Linked DNA regions of Homo sapiens. The protein of the gene in region 2 purifies or fractionates together with the protein of the main gene of each other region. This does not show direct contact. Each region holds a gene or a part of one and is shown on either strand. Other genes may lie near its edges.

Evidence for each region.
Region 1: the proteins of GTF2H2C (region 2) and IRAK4 fractionate together in Homo sapiens (co-fractionation; one large-scale study listed by BioGRID). This does not show direct contact.

The regions. Positions count from the first base shown.
Region 1 is NC_000012.12:43,786,430-43,790,265, forward strand, and holds the end of IRAK4 (interleukin-1 receptor-associated kinase 4), read left to right. Parts: coding exon 1-128; intron 129-250; coding exon 251-286; 3' UTR 287-3,112; downstream 3,113-3,836.
Region 2 is NC_000005.10:69,593,188-69,595,789, reverse strand, and holds the end of GTF2H2C (general transcription factor IIH subunit 2-like protein), read right to left. Parts: 3' UTR 569-2,602; downstream 1-568. UniProt on the Homo sapiens protein: Component of the core-TFIIH basal transcription factor involved in nucleotide excision repair (NER) of DNA and, when complexed to CAK, in RNA transcription by RNA polymerase II.

The DNA.
Region 1 (3,836 bases), on a different chromosome or scaffold from region 2:
AAAAGACAATTGAAGATTATATTGATAAAAAGATGAATGATGCTGATTCCACTTCAGTTGAAGCTATGTACTCTGTTGCTAGTCAATGTCTGCATGAAAAGAAAAATAAGAGACCAGACATTAAGAAGGTATGCATTTTTTATACTTATTTAAAAAGTGAAAGGGGTGGGGTTCATCATATTTTCCAGAGTGTATATTTTAAAGCAACTGTATAATGTGGTTCTTTTGTTTTTTTCTTTCTTTTTAAAAGGTTCAACAGCTGCTGCAAGAGATGACAGCTTCTTAAAACTTTATTGGAAAAGACTCTTGACTTTTTATATACACCTATCTCAACCATTTTTTTAACTGATTTTTTTCCTAAATATTCTTCTTTACCTTTAACAAGGCATAGGCTGTTGCAGGACAGTGGTTATTAAAGCATGGGTTGAACTTCCAAAATATAAAAATAGAGCCACCATATCAACACTTAGCCCTACCCATTAGTATCACCCCCAGTTCTTACAGTAATCCCTGAGAAATCTCCTTCAAGCATCACCAAACACAGTTTGAAAATTACAGGGTTAGCAAAAAGAGCCTGGGCTGTATGTAGGGTGGAAACACTCTGATCTGAAGCCCAGCTGACTCCACTACTAATTTGCTGTAAAGCTTTGGACATACACTTAGCTGCTGTGAGCCACTAATAACATTGGGCTAATATCTGCTGTGCTTCTCTGACAGGTAGTCATGAAAATCAAATGATGCAAAATATATACAAGCACTTTGTAAATTGTAAAATGATACAAAATTTAAAGTTTATAGAGCCAGTTACAAAATCCTATTAGTCATATATTTATAGATTGTGTTCACAGCAATCATTTAACCACAAATAAAATATCCCTTGATGATACTGCCATAATGATATGTCCATTATTAGATTATGTTACATGACAAAGTTGAAGGAATTTGGCAGATGCAGTTAAGGTTCCTAAACAACTCACTTTGAGACTGTTGAAAGGGCCTGACCTAATCAAGTGAACCCTTGCAAGAAGAATTCTCCTTGTAAGCCTTGAAGAAGTATGTGAGAGGGCCACATTGGCTAAAACCTAAAGGTGGCCTCTAGGAGATGAGACCTACCTTCCAGTTGTCAGCAAGCAGGAAAAAAAAATTGGGACCTCAGTTGCAACCACAAGGAACTGAATTCTGCCAAAAATCTGAGTCAGCTTAGAAGAGTACTCCAAGCTTCAGATGATAACCACAGCCTGGGCTGACACCTGGATTTCAGCTTTGCATGATCCTCAGTATGAGAATCTATCTGTTCTGTGCTGGACTTCTAATATATAGAACTGTGAGATAATGGGTCACATTGGCTGGATGTGGTGGCTCATACCTGTAAATCCCAGCACTTTGGGAGGCCGAGGCAGGCAGATCACCTGAGGTCAAGAGTTCAAGACCGGCCTGGCCAACATGGTGAAACCCCGTCTCTACTAAAAATACAAAAATTAGACGAGCGTGGTGGTGGACACCTGTAGTCCCAGCTACTTGGGAGGCTGAGGCAGGAGACTAGCTGGAACCAGGGAGGTAGAGGTTGCAGTGAGCTGAGATCGTGCCACTGCACTCCAGCCTGGGTGACAGAGTGAGACTCCATCATAAATAAATAAATAAATAAATGGGTCACATTAAGCCTTTAAGTTTGTGGTAATTTATTATTCAGTAATAGAAAACAAATACAGATACTCTCCCATGATGTTTTTCCCATGATGATTTCCCATGATATTTACAGGTTTTGCCCACATTTGAGGGGTATGTGGAAATTATACAGAGCATGTACAGCGGGAGGCTTATAGTGTACGTACTGAAATGTGGGGTTGGAGCCCCAACACAGAGACCCCAGCAGGACACTGCCTAGTAGAGCTATGGGAAGGGTGCTGCCACCCTCCAGACTTGAGAATTGTAGAGCCACCAGCAGCTTGCACTCTGAGCTTGGAAAAGCCACAGGCACTCAACTTCAACCATGAGGGAAGCCACGCACCCTGCAAAGCCACAGGAGTGGAGCTGCCCACGGCCTCGAGGGCCCACCCCTTGCACCAGTGTGCCAGGATGTGGGACATGGAATCAAGGAATATGTTAGGGCTTTTTTTTTTTTTTTTTTGAGACGGAGTCTTGCTCTGTTGCCCAGGCTGGAGTGCAGTGGCACGATCTCGGCTCACTGCAAGCTCTGCCTCCCAGGTTCACGCCATTCCCCTGCCTCAGCCTCCCCAGTAGCTGGGACTACAGGTGCCCGCCACCATGCCCAGCTAATTTTTTTTGTATTTTTAGTAGAGATGGGGTTTCACTGTGTTAGCCAGGATGGTCTTGATCTCCTGACCTCGTGATCACCCGCCTCGGCCTCCCAAAGTGCCAGTATTTAAAGTTTAATGTCTTCCCAGCTGGGTTTCAGACTTGCCAGGATCCTGTTGCCCCTTTCTTTAGCCAATTTCTCCCTTTTGGGACAAGAATGTTTTACTTATTGCCTGTACCACCAACTGTATCTTGGAAATAAATAACTTATATTTTATTTCAGAGGCTCATAGGCGGCAGGAACTTACCTTGAGTCTCAAATGAGACTTAGGACTTTTGAGTGATGCTAGAATGAGTTAAGACTTTGGGAAGGGATGATTATATTTTGCAATGTGAGAAAGACATTAGATTTGGGGGGCTGGGGGTAGAATGACATTGTTTAGATGTTTGTCTCCTTCAAATTTCATGTTTAAATGTAATCCCCAGTGTTGGGGGTGGAGGTGGGGCCTGATGGGAAGTGTTTGGGTCATGGTGGATGATCCCTCATGAATGGCTTAGAGCCACTGGTGATGAGTGAGTTCTCACTCAGTTCGTGTGAGATCTGGTGGCTTAAAAGAGTCTGCTCCCCCTTTGCCTTCCATTGTGATTGTAACCTTCCTGGGGCCTTCATCAAAGGCCAGGCAAATATTGGTGCCGTGCTAGTATGGCCTGCAGAACCGTAAGCCAAAACAAACCTTTTTTCTTTATAAATTACCCAGCCTCAGTTATTCCTTTATAGTGATGCAAAACGGGCTAACTATATAAATTTGTAATTTTTAAGTTATAGATTGTTTTTATTAAACACTTATGAATACTGTTTGAAGTGCTTTAATTTTTATAACAATCCTATGAATTTGGTAATAATCACATTTTACAGATGAGGAAATTACCCAAGATTATATAGCTAATAAGTTGCGTGGCAGAAATTAGCATCTGGTATCAGTTTGCGATCTTTACCACTAACACGATGTCTGTGCATCATATTAATCATAATCATTTTCTCTGTCATATGTTGAAAGTTATTGTGCCAAACATTGTGCTGAGTTTTAGAAGCATGATCTGATTTGATAAATCTACAATGTAGGTTCTATTCTTTTACTTCTTGAGGAAATTTTGAGACCCCCAATGATTAAATAACTTCTTTCCCTTGTTCATTGTATTAGACTGCAATTCTCCACTCATTATATTTGATGCCTTTTGCAATATGGCTTTGTAATTTTTCCCATCAGGAAGTAAAGTCTATTTCCTCAACCATTAAATCTGGGCTGGCCTTGTAACTTGCTTACAGAAAAAGTGATGGTCAGTTCCAAGCCCAGGTCTCAAAAGCACTAATGCACTACTTCTCTCATTTGGAACCCTGCCACTGACATGAGAACAAGCCAAGGGTAACATGCTGCTGATGACAGACCATGCAAAACAGAGACAAGGCATCTCAGATGAGGTCATCCTTAATCAGCCCACCTGCCAGCTGATCACAAACATACATGAGACATGAGAGGTCAGCCAACTGTAGATTTGTGAGGGAGGGTAGCTGTTGTTTT
Region 2 (2,602 bases):
GCACCTGCAGTCCCAGCTACTCGGGAGGCTGAGGCAGGAGAATGGCATGAACCCGGGAGGTGGAGCTTGCAGTGAGCTGAGATCGCGCCACTGCACTCCAGCCTGGGCGACAGAGCGAGACTCTGTCTCAAAAAAAAAAAAAAAAATTCTTCTTGTTGTAATTTATTGTTGTTGCAATTTTTGTTTGTTGTAATTTCTAGGGTAACCACTGAAAGAATAAAAACAAAGTATACAATTTTCAAACTAGTGACGAAAAACATAGAATGGTAGAAAGTAAGTAATCAAAAAGAAGGCAAGAAGGAAAAGATCGTATCAAATATGTAGTTAAAAAAATTTAAAAAAACGAAAGATGGAATTGTTGGAACCAATAACACAAAGATAATAGACTTAAACCCAAATATATCAGTGGTAATCTTTTAATAAATATTTATATTTATTATATATATTTATATATTTTAATATATAATATATTAAAATATATATTATATATAAATATATATAAATATATAAATATAAATATAAATAATATATTTATAAATATAATATTTATAATAAAATATATCAGTGGTAATCTTTTAATAAGTAAATATATTTATTAAATATAAAAGGTACACAGTAAATATAAATGAACTAAATGCTTTAGTTAAAAGACAATAAAAATTATGAAATAAAAATGTATACACTTGAAAGTATTTAAAATAAATCTAATTTTCATAATGAATTTTAAGCATTAAGGAGTTTTGTAACTGAATAGTGGAACTCAGAAAGACATCCTATTCAGAAGGATCTCTCATGATAATAGTTTCCTTCACTATTGTAGTATACTGTAGAGTTTCAAGAAAAAAATTAAAGGCCAAAACTGTCTTACATTACCATTGCTGTTTCTGCAATCTTCAACAAACCAAAATTTTCTCTGTAATTGTGAAAAAAGAACTCCTCCTTAAGCATAACTAAAATTTTGCCTTAACCTTATCAAATACCCAAAACTGTAGAAAGAGATAAAGCTGTTAATAGAGACATGGGTATCCCTTTTTATCAGGTCAGGAGGGTAAGTCTCTAATAGAGAGTTCTAGTAACTTCTCAAAAGGTAACTAATGAAGGCCTTCCTTCTAAACCAGATAGGGGGAGATAGAATGCTCTGAGTATTAAAGGCATCTCCTGCAAGCCACTGATACCTTTGTTGACAGAGCACACAGAAGAAAATAGCAGTTACCAGGTTACCTATAGGTGAAATTTGTTTCCACATAAAGAACCACTGGGTCCAGGCTCATGGAGTATGACTCCTGAGAGAAACTCCCGTTACTCTGATCAGTGTGTGTGTGTGTGTGTGTGTGTGTGTGTGTGTGTGTGTGTATTAAAAATGAATATTCCTGGGCTCCCAATAAACTCTCCAGGGTGGGATTACGTTGTCTTTACTGATAATGTTCTTAACTAAAAATTCTTAGTTATAAAATCACAAATTTCGGCCGGGCACGGTGGCGGAGGTGGGTGGATGACCTGAGGTCAGGAGTTGGAGATCAGCCTGATCAACAAGGTGAAACCCCGTCTCTACCAAAAATGCAAAAATTAGCCAGGCGTGGTGGCAGGCGCCTGTAGTCCCAGCTACTCAGGAGGCTGAGACAGGAGAATGGCTTGAGCCTGGGAGGCGGAGGTTGCAGTGAGCCAACAGCAGGCCACTGCACTCCAGCCTGGGCGATGGAGCAAGACTCCATCTCAAAAAAAAAAAAAAAAAAATCACAAATTTCATAGTGAAACTCAAGTTAGAGTACCTGAAGTTTATATACATAAAATAGACATACCTTTGCTATGAAAGCCTGATTTACTCTTTTTTTTTTTTTTTTTTTTTTTTTTCTTGAGACAGAGTCTAGCTCTGTCGCCCAGGCTGGAGTGCAGTGGAGCGATCTCGGTTCACTGCAAGCTCCGCCTCCTGGGTTCACACCATTCTCCTGCCCCAGCCTTCCGAATAGCTGGGACTACAGGCGCCCGCCACCAGGCCCAGCTAATTTTTTGTATGTTTAGTAGAGACGGGGTTTCACCGTGTTAGCCAGGATGGTCTCGATCTCCTGACCTCGTGATCTGCCCGCCTCGGCCTCCCAAAGTGCTAGGATTACAGGCGTGAGCCACCGCGCCCGGCTGAAAGCCTGATTTACTCTTAACTGGATATAACCAGAAAGAGTTCTGCCCACAATGATATATCTGCATTGAATCTAAAACACAGACTTCATCATACATTCTCACCTAAATTTCTCTGATGACCCAGAGTAAGGCAAAAGGTTTAGCATATGAGAGTGAAAGGATTTGAATCTCACTTTCTGTCAAACTTTAGAGCTCTGTTAACCATGGTTAGTATCAACTATGATTTTAGGCAACTTTGCTTATAGTAAAAATAACTCGTTAATTGTTACGTATCTGGATTGGGATGCACTATAAATAAATGGAGTCTTCAAGCTTTAGGCTTTCCTGAGTGTAGTGACTCTTGAAATTGACACATCCCTTGTGGATACCTGGAAGCTGTGTTTATGGAATTGTTAAGAGATATTGGTTCCTTGATGCCTGTGGAGGATCTTATCTCCTTGCACCCAAATTGTACTAGTGGACTGCT